Regions from separate parts of the Homo sapiens genome. Here region 2 is linked to region 1. Evidence: fine-mapped expression QTL. A gene starts in region 1. The other region holds a variant in brackets. All regions are shown on one strand. Distances are between the middles of the regions.

Region 1 (5,385 bases):
CAGGGAAGGATTTATTTAAAAAGATACAAAAAGCACTAACCATAAAGAAAAAATATTGATAAACTCAGCTTTTTAAAAATTAGAACTTATCATAAAATCATCTTACAGGAAATGATGAAATAGTCCAAATAGTAGGAAAACAATCAATAAAGGACTGAGATCCAGATTACATAAATAACTCATACGAATCAATAAGAGCTATTCCAAGAGAAAAATGAGTAAAGATTTGAACTGACATGTCACAAAAGATGACTAAAAACCAATAAACATATGGAATATGTTCAATTTTATTATTAATCACGGAAACCCAAATTCAAACCTGTGGGGGTGGGCGGGTATAAGTACAGATATATATTCAAATGAGGATTTAAAAGTCTGGCATGTCTGATTTGTATATCATAGTTTTTGCAAACATCAAAAATGTATTTCCCAAGACCATTTGATGACATGGGAGAATATTTCTGACACTTCTTTTTGCAAAAATGTAGAACATCAAATGGTAAATGAAATAAAATTTGGTTTTTGACAAATAATGAAAATACATTAAAATATTAACCCTAGTTATCTGAGTGGCTAAATTTTATTTTTTCTTGGTAATGCTGTGTTTTTGAGATCTCTAAATTAATCATCCTTTTATTTTTAAATCAGAATAAATATTTGAGAAGAAAATTCAGCAAGCATAAGTGGAGCAACCATCCTTTTCTGTGATGGGAAAATTATAGGGACCTATAATTAAATGACATTCCTTTAAGCAAGAATTTTCAGAAGAAAAAGAGGAAACCCCAACACACCTTGGATACTGCTTGTAGAAGTTCATCATGCATTCTTTCCTCCTCTTCTGGGTGACACCTGGAGAAAGGTAAAATTGGGAGAGGGAAGAGTAACTGTGAGACACCAGGTTTTTCTTGGTACCCAGATTAGTCAAGTAAGAGTTCTTCCCCAGCCCCATTACCCACCACACATGAGGAATGGAGATCAGAGGAGAATGGGGCATTCTGTCCAATTCCAGTGGCTCAGGGGAAAGGTTGTGTTCACTGCTGTCCAGGGTTGGAATCTGACCAGACCTCAGAGAGGTTTCCTAGAGACAGAGTTCTGGAGTCACAATCGCATAGTTGACAGGACCCCATACTCATACACAGAATGCCACATACATTTAGGGACAGTCACACTTAAGGCGACATGCACGTCTCACCTGCCCACAAGGAGCCACACACGGCAACACAGTTACAATCACATACACACCATAGGAAACACACAATTACAGCTGCACAATCGTAGGCACCCCACACTGTCGCAGAGTCACAATCACACATCACCACGGGAACACACAGCCACAACCCCCACAGTGACAGGTATCCCATATCCGCACATAAGCCGCAGTGTTATTATCTCCCAGACAATTTCACAACCTCCCCTCTTTTTTTGGGGGGGTGGGGTGGGGTGGGGACAGAGTCTTGCCCTGTCGCCAGGCTGGAGTGCAGTGGTGCGATCTCGGCTCACTGCAACCTCCGCCTCCCGGGTTCAAGTGATTCTCCTGCCTCAGCCTGCGAGTAGCTGGGATTACAGGCGCGCGCCACCATGCCTAGCTAATTTTTGTATTTTTAGTAGAGATGGGGTTTCACCATGTTGGCCAGGATGGTCTCGATCTCTTGACCTCGTGATCCTCCTGCCTCGGCCTCCCAAACACAACCTCCACCTTTCAGGCCGCTCCGCCCGCAGGGGCCCAAGGCGCCAGCTCCCCATCGGTCTTCGGTATCCTCACCTAAGCCCTTTCCAGTCATCCCGGATGGGAACTTGCAGACCTGAGCCAGTTCTCCTGGGGACCAAAATATCTCACCTCCCAGATCTAAGGGTCCCGCCAGGAGTGACGAAACGTTCGAATTCCTGCGAGAAAAGTGGCAGGCCACCAGGCCCTCTGGGAAATGTAGTCCAGAGCGGGACCCACGCCGATTCCTGTCAGCTCCTCGCCTGGGCCCACCCGAAACGGCTGCTCCCTCAACTCTCAACATCCAGCCGAGCCTCGGAGTTGCGGGTCGCCGTAGCGCTGCGCAATGGAGATGAGCCTCCCGGGGAACCCGGCCCAAGCCTCACCCTCACACAGGAAAGCAGATGTGTTCTGGCCGGAAGTTGAGTGGGGCCGCGGGGCCTGCTGGGAGGTGTTGTCCTCGGAAACGTCGCTGGCGCGGAGGGATGGTTCGGCGCTTTAGGCGTCTGTCACAGACCTATCTGCGGGTCGCCTTCACCCAGCATCTCAGAAACTGCGCGCGGGATGAACATTCGGGTGTTTCCGGCAGGTGACGCTGCCGAGTCCCCGCAGCAGGGGGCGAGCAAGGGACTCGCGGTTGACGGGACACGGATCCTCTAAGGCCCAGAGTGTCCCGAGTAGCGGCAGTGGGGAGTGCTCAGGGTACGCTAATGGTGAGTGGTTGCAGTTGATGGGACAAAAAACTGTGATGGGAGTTAGTGTGGGTGTGTGGTTGTGTGTGTGAGTGTGACGGCACGAATAATCTGATGGGGTGATTGTGATATTTGGTTGCGCGGGATTATGATGAAATGTGTGATATGTGTGTGATTATGATTAAGGCTGTAGCGAGTGTGAACGTGGCGAAGTGTGCGTGATTGTAATATGTCTAGTAGTTCTTGTCTTGAGCTGGCTTTTCTGTAGCATTTGGCACAGTTGGTAACGGCTTGAAAAACACTTATTTGTTTTCTACTGATCCTCCCTCCTTGTTGGCCACTCCTCTGTAGTCTTCTTTGCTGTCTTTTTTACCCTAGTAGCCCTTGGCCCTTTGTAATTTTCCACTATTCCTTGGCGAACTTTTCAGGTTCATTATTATCTTATGACTTGCTGCTTTTATGTATGTTAGTTAGCTATTGCCATGATAATAATTATGTCTAAAAACCACCCCTGAACTCAATGCCATACAACAGCAAGTCCTTACTCTCCTGTTCACAGGCTTGCGCATTGACTGTGTTCAGCTGATCTAGGTGGGGCTTGGCTGAGTGGATAGGCTGCGTGACGAGTTAAGATCTGCGCCGCATGTGTTCTTTCAGGGTCTCAGGCCAAAAGGACATTTGTTGCCAGGGCATGCTCTGCTCCTGATGGGTCACCAGAGCGCAAGAGAGATTGCCTCAACCAGAGCAAGTCACATGGCTAAGCCTAAAATCAATTATGCCCACAGTTGGAGAGCAAAGTTACCTCGCAAAGAGTATGAATAATAATCTATTAGAGGGTGTGAGGAATTGGACTAAAATTCCAGTCTACCACCTTAAGAAACATACCTCTTTATCCTGGTGAATGCCTTTTAGTCCGGGTTCTCTTTTGTCTGATAATATTGCTTTTCAAGTTTTATTGTATTTCTTAAGAATTTCATTTTCTAACCCCCTTGTGTCTTTATGTTTCAGATCTGTGTCTTGTAAAGAGCATATTGCTGGGCTTACATCCGTTTATCTTGTTTGACTGTTATTTTAATAGGTGAGTATAGTTCAGTGGCATTTATCATGATTGCTCATAAAAAATGTTTTATTTTCTATTACGCCTTAAACATTTTTGATTGACATATAATAGTTGCACATATATCTTTTTTTATTGTGCAAATTCACCTTATCCCTTTTTCTCCCCTAGGTTGGTTTCTGCTATTATCCTTTTTTAATATGCATGCTTAACAAAACTCAACCTTAAGACTTTAAAATACTTGAACTCCAAAATATCCACCAATTTCTGTGTTATTCTTGTCTCATATATTATTTTCTTCTAGTTTTTGTTGTTGTTGTTGTTTTGTTTTGTTTTTTTGAGACGGAGTCTCGCTCTGTCACCCAGGCTGGAGTGCAGTGGCACGGTCTCGGCTCACTGCAAACTCCGCCTCCCGAGTTCAAGCGATTCTCCTGCCTCAGCCTCCCGAGTAGCTGGGACTACAGACGCGCCACCACGCCCGGCTGATTTTTTGTATTTTTAGCAGAGACAGGGTTTCACCATGTTAGCCACCATGGTAGATCTCCTGACCTCGTGATTTGCCGACCTCAGCCTCCCAAAGTGCTGGGATTACAGGCGTAAGCCACCATGCCCAGCCTATTCTCTTCTAGTTTTAAATCCCCAAATTAGTAGTAGTAGCTCATTTATTCTATATACAGTTCGTATCCAGGAGGGGTTGGTTTCAAGACCCCCCATGGATACCAGAATCCACAGATGCTCAAGTCCCTACATCCTTCTTTATACATTAAATCATCTCTAGATTATTTGTAATACCTAATATAATGTAAATGCTGTGTAAATCATTGTTACACGTTATTGTTTAGGGAATAATGAGAAAAAAATCTGTACTGTACGTGTTCAGTACAGACACAACTGTAGTAGGCCTAACTGTATTTTTTATCTGAGGCTGATTGAATCTGAGGATGCAGAACCTGTGGATAAGGAGGACCAACTATGTATACACACATGTATATTTAATTGTGGTAAAATACACAACATAGAATTTACCATCTAAACCATATATAAGTGTACAGTTCAGTGGCATGAAGTACATTCACATTGTTATGGTACCGTCACCACCATCCAGCCAGAGAACTCTTCTTCTTGCAAAACAGAAACCCAGTACCTATCAAACAATAACTCTGTACCCCCCTTTCCCCCGGCCTATGGCATCTACCATTCTACTTTCTGTCTCTGAATTTGACTATTCTAAATACTTCATATAAGCAGAATCATATGTTGTTTGTGCTTTTGTGACCCTGATTTAACTTAGCATAACGTCCTCAAGATTCATCCATGTTAGCATGTATTGGAATTTCCTCCTTTTTTAAGGCCGAATGATAAGTATGTCATATATGGATAAATATTTTGTTTATCAATTTATTCATCATTGGACACTTGGGCTGCTTCTACCTTTTGGCAATTGCAAGTGACACTGCTACAAACATGGGTATACAACTATCTGAGTCCCTGCTTTCAGTTTTTTATATATACATGTGGTAATGTCTGTTTTTAATCTTTGATTGTCATAGTGTTTTCGATAATGACTGAACCATTTTATCAGCATATTTTTGAGCACCTACTATGAATATCAAAAACAGACAAAAATAAGTCCTTGTTTTCATGGAGTTTATGTTGAGGGGGGTGGGTGGACAGTATATATAACTAAATTATAGTCATGTGCCATATATGTATGGACTATATACATACATGACAGTGGTCCTGTAAGACAGTGGTCCCCAGCCTTTTTGGCACCAGGGAGTGGTTTTGTGGAAGACAATTTTTCCAGGGACTGGGGGATGGGAGGGTTATGGTTTCAGGATGAAACTGTTGTCCCTCAAATCATGAGGCATTAGATTCCTATAAGGAGCAAGCAACCTATATCCCTCGCATGCACAGTTCAGAAGAGGGTT
Region 2 (5,385 bases), 22 kb before region 1:
TCTGATGTTGGATAAATTGTGAGTTTTGATTAAAGGTCTTTCCACATATCTTACATTCCCATGGTTTCTCTTCACTCATAGTTTTTTGAGGTGGAATAAGAAATGTGGGCTGAATAAAAGTAGACATGTCTTCACGGGTAATTATTACTTGACTGAAATGTCTCTTCTTTAGAGATAATATTTTGGTCTCACACATTGATTCCAGATCTGAAAGAAAATACAAAGGCAAATAAATTTTCCTATTCTGGGCAAGTTAAAACTTCTAAAAAAGAAATGGGAGAATTAAACTGAAAAGAATATCTGAGAAATTACACAGTTTTCAAAGGTGGAGAGGCAATCTGTAAAACTGACAAGAAAAGCACAGACATTAGGAGAGGTAATAAAAGAAGCTGAGGATGTGGATTCAGAAAGTAGATGACCTCTATGATCCTCAAATTTTGGTCTGAACCAGAGTCACCTTAAGCCTTGGTGAATACACAGTGTTCAGCACCATCCTCCATATTATAGAGAGATTCTAATTAAAAAAAAAAAATTTTTTTTGCCCCCACCCCAGATCCCCCACAGGCGCTGCCTGAGACCCAGCTCTGTGTCTCCTCGTCGTACAGCTTGTGGAGCTCCGACTGCAAGGCCATCAGCATGCCCAGGCAGGGGTTAAGCTGGAGGGCCATGGAGGAGGACAGGCCAGCAGGATGCCGCTTCTGCTCCAGGGCATGCACCATGCGTGAGATATTCTAATTATATACACGTTCATAAACATATGCTCACATGCACAGAGTATGATACTGTATGTTTTGCAATTCGTAGATAACTGTCAGACCTACATGAAAGGACTGTTAAGAATAACAAATGTGTTGAAAGGTTTAAATGTCGGGGGCGGGTGGAGTTCAGTGACTGTGCAATGGTATACTGGCAAATCACCAGCCTCCGACAAATCTAATATGCTGAACACAACTGGTGGGAAGAGTAGACAGGTACATCTCTTCTGTGCATACAGCATGATATGGGCTAGGAACTCACTGAAAATAATTTGCTCTGGAATTCTGTGATGTTGACCTTGGGAGAAAGAAATGAATAATTCAAGTCATAGCAGTGATTGAGAAGGAAGGTGGCTCAAGTTTGAGACACAAGAGAGTTAAGATAGGATGAAATGTACTCTATGAGAAGAATGGAACTCCATGTCAACATATAAACAGTGAGCCCCAGTTCTATGCTTTAAGGCAACCTCTGAGCCCTCTTTTCCTTGTTTATTAAAATGGGACTGACACTTAACTTATGATTGCTAAAAAGATGAGGAATAACGTATATAAATAATCTGATATAAAGTAAGCACTCAGTATTGGTAGCTATTATTATGAAAAAATGTCATAGCAAAAACAGATATTGGGCAAATAAAATGGCTTGAAGACATCAAAATAAAGCCAGCTAGACTATCTTAAGTATTCCCTCCACACAATCATTGGCCAAACTTAGTCTGGGTGAGTCCCTAAAAATCTCTTAAAGTTGTCCTCATTTAATTACTGAATCCCCTCTTTCCTAGACCACTACAGGAATCTCCTAATGGTTTCCCCAGTATGTTCTAGCACCCTCTAATCCATTCAGCACCTGGTGTGATATTTGGTCTCACTTTGCCCTCCTGAAAATCTAAACTCCTTGGTAATTACCAAGAAGACTCCAATAATGAGGCTCTTGCCTACCTCTACAACCTTGTGTTATACTCCACTTCCACTTGCTCAAGAAGCCCCAGTCCTTCAAGCACCTCAAGTTCTCCCTGCCCCTCAGGGCCTTCCCACATGGATCTCCCCTTTACCTGGCATACCCCTCATCCTATCACCATTGTTGGCCCTGCTAACAATGAGAAAAGCCTCATCACAGCTTCCACTAACAACCAAGCCCTAAGCCACTGAGGAACTCACAGACACTGCTGACACTGATTGCAGCCAGAGAAATCATATGGAGATTATACCACTGCATCCACCTATAACAAAGCCAAAGCAACCTACCCAACCAACACTATAAATACATCTACAGGAAAAAGGTTTTCCTTATGAAAACAAATCCATAAAATTGGAAAAAATGACCATAACAAGAAATACACAGATATCAATGTAAGGATAAAAGAAACACGAAAAAGCATGGAACCATGACATCTCCAAAGTAATACAATAATGCTCCAGCAACAGATTCCAACAAACAAGAAATCTATCAAGTGCCTGAAAAAGAATTCAAAATAATGATATTAAAGAAGCTCAGTGGGAAACAATAGAACATGGATAAAAACCAAAAGAATCAGAAAAAACAATTCATGATCTGAATGAGAAATTCAGCAGATAGATATCATGAAAAAGAACCAAACAGAAGTCCTGAAACTGACAAATTTCAATGAATGAAATAAAAAACACAATTGAGAGCTTCAACAATAGACTAGATCAAGCAGAAGAAAGAATTTCTGAACTTGAGGACAGGGTTTTTTAAAAGAATCCAGGAAGAAAAAGTAAAAAATAATAATTTTTAAAACTGAAAAAAGCTTAGATGACATATGGGACATCATAAAGCAACCAAATATTCAAATTTTGGGTATTCTAGGAGAAGAGATGGGCAAAGGCATAAAAACCTATTTAACAAAATAACTGAAAACTTTCCAAGTCTTGTAAGCAATATAGACATCCTGATACAGAAGGCTCAATGATGCCCAAATAGATTCAATCCAAAAAGGTTTTCCAAGGCCCATTACAGTCAAACTGTCAAAAGTCAAAGACAGAGAATTCTAAAAAAAGCAAGAGAAAGGCATCAAGTCACATATAAGGGAACCCTCAGGCGTCAAGTCACATACAAGGGAACCCTCATCAGAACTAGTAGCAGATACCTTGGCAGAAACCTTCCATGCCAGGAAAGAATGGGATGATATATTCAAAGTGCTAAAAAAACACTGTCAGCCAAGAATACTGTACCTAGCAAAGCCATCCTTCAAAAATGAAGGAGAAAGTTTTTCCCAGAGAAAATGTATCACAACTAGGGTGGCCCGATCAAAAATGGCAAAGGGTGTC[C/T]TACATCTGGAAGTAAAAGACATATCTACCATCATTAAACAAATGAAAATAAGAAGCTCACTGGTAGAGCAGATACACAAATGGAAAGAGAAAGGACTCAGATGTAACCATTACATAAAACCACCAAACCAAATGATAAGAGGAAAGAAAAAGGATATAAAACAACCATAAAAAATTAACAGATTAGGAATAAATCCTCACCTATTAATAATAACCTTGAATGTAAACAGTCAAATTCCCCACTTAAAAGATACAGTCTGGTTGAATGGATAAAATAAATATGACTCACCTATATACTGGCTGTGAGAAACTCACTTTATATATAAAATCATAGACTGAAAGTGAAGAGATGAAAAAAAAATACTGCACACAAACAAACCAAAAGCAAGTGAGAGTAGCCATACTTAAATAAAACAGACATTAAGTAAAAAACTGCAAAAGAAGCAAAGAAGGTCATTATATAATGATAAATGGGTCAATTCAGCCAGAGGATATAAAGTTCTAAATTTATAGGCACTCAACACTGCAGCACCCAGATATATAAGCAAATATTATTAGATCTAAAAAGAGAGATAGGGCTGGGCATGGTGGCTCATGCCTGTAATCCCAACACTTTGGGAGGCCAAGGCGGGAGGATCACTTGAGGTCAGGAGTTCGAGACCAGCCTTCCCAACATGACGAAACCCTGTCTCTACTAAAAATACAAAAATTAGCTGGGTGTGGCCAGGCGCGGTGGCTCATGCCTGTAATCCCAGCACTTTGGGAGGCTGAGGCAGGCAGATCACGAGGTCAGGAGATTGAGACCATCCTGGCTAACATGGTGAAACCTCGTCTCTACTAAAAATACAAAAAATTAGCCAGGCATGGTGGCAGGCACCTGTAGTCCCACCTACTCGGGAGGCTGAGGCAGGAGAATGGTGTGAACCTGGGAGACGGAGCCTGAAGTGAGCCGGGTTCGCACCACTGCACTCCAGCTTGGGTGACAGAGCAAGACTGTCAAAAAAAAAAAAAGAAAGAAAAAAAAATTAGCTGGGCGTGGTGGCATGCACCTGTAATCCGAGCTACTCAGGAGGCTGAGGCAGGAGAATTGCTTGAACCTGGGAGGCAGAGGTTGCAGTGAGCCAATATTGTGCCACTGCACTCCAGCCTGGGCGACGGAACTAGACTCTGTCTCAAAAAAACAACAACAAAAAAAGGTAGACTCCCATAAAATAATAGTACGGGATTTGAACATCCCACTCTCAGCATTAGACAGTTCATCTAGATAGAAAATCAACAGCTTTGGATTTAAACTGGATATTAGACCAAATGGACCTACCAGACACTAACTGAACATTTTATCCAACAGCTGCAGAATACACATTGTTCCTATCAGCACATGGAACATCCTCCAGGAAGAGACCATACGTTAGGCCATAAGACAAGTTATAACTAATTTTTAAAAATTGAAATCATATCAAGTATCTTCTCAGACTACACTAGAATAAAACTAGAAATCAATAACAAAAACTTTGTAAACCACACAAATAAATGGAAATTTAAACAATGTGCTTGCTCATGAATGCCCATTGGGTCAATTAAGAAATTAAAGATCATCAAAGACTACTACAGGCAACTATATGCTAACAAATCAGATAACCTAGAGGAAACAGAAAAATTCCTGGATACATGAAAACCTACCAAGACTGAACCAGGAAGAAACAGAGCAGAAGAACCTGAGCAGACCAATAACGAGTAATGAGATTGAAGCAATAGTAAAATGTCTCCCAACAAAAAAAGCCCAAGACTAAAGGGCTTTACTGCTGAATCCTACCAAAATTACAAATAACTAACCTCAGTTTTTCTCAAACTATTCCAAAAAATGGAAGAGAAGTTAATTCTTCCTAATCCATTCTACAAGGCCAGCATTACCCTGATACCAAAACCAGAGAAGGACACAACAACAACAACAAAAAGAGGTGATATCCCTCATGAACATAGACACAAAACCCCTCAATGAAATACTAGCAAATGAAATCCAATAATACAACAACAAGATAATATACAACGATTAAGTGAGATTTTTCCTGAAAAGTGCAAGGATGGCTCAACATAAGCAAATCAATAAACATGATGTATCAGATCAACAGGATGAGGGATAAAAACCATATGATCAGCTCAATAGATGCAGAGAAACATCTGATAAACTTCAACGTCTCTTCATTATAAAAACCTCTCAACGATTAGGCATTAAAAAACATAACATAATAAAGACCATATATGACAAACGTACAGCTAACACCATACTGAATGGGGAAAAGCCGAAAGCTTTTCCTCTAAGAACTGGAACAAGATAAAGAAG

The links.
Region 2: its variant is fine-mapped to the expression of ZNF568 in sigmoid colon (GTEx, PIP 0.95).

What each region holds. Positions count from the first base shown.
Region 1 is chr19:36,914,174-36,919,558 of GRCh38, forward strand. ZNF568 (zinc finger protein 568) reads left to right here and starts at 2,159. Exons shown (of 7, transcript NM_198539.4): 1 at 2,159-2,418; 2 at 3,406-3,475. ZNF829 (zinc finger protein 829) reads right to left here and starts at 2,118. Exons shown (of 6, transcript NM_001037232.4): 1 at 1,838-2,118; 2 at 957-1,078; 3 at 792-849. The coding sequence starts at 994. RefSeq lists enhancers at 1,754-1,803, 1,864-2,243.
Region 2 is chr19:36,892,265-36,897,649 of GRCh38, forward strand. It overlaps ZNF829 (zinc finger protein 829), which reads right to left. Exons shown (of 6, transcript NM_001037232.4): 6 at 1-207. It also overlaps a transcript of ZNF345 not described here. Among named protein-coding and RNA genes, the nearest start is that of ZNF829, 21 kb to the right of the region's middle. RefSeq lists an enhancer at 1-362. The variant C/T (reference allele first, on the strand shown) is at 3,045.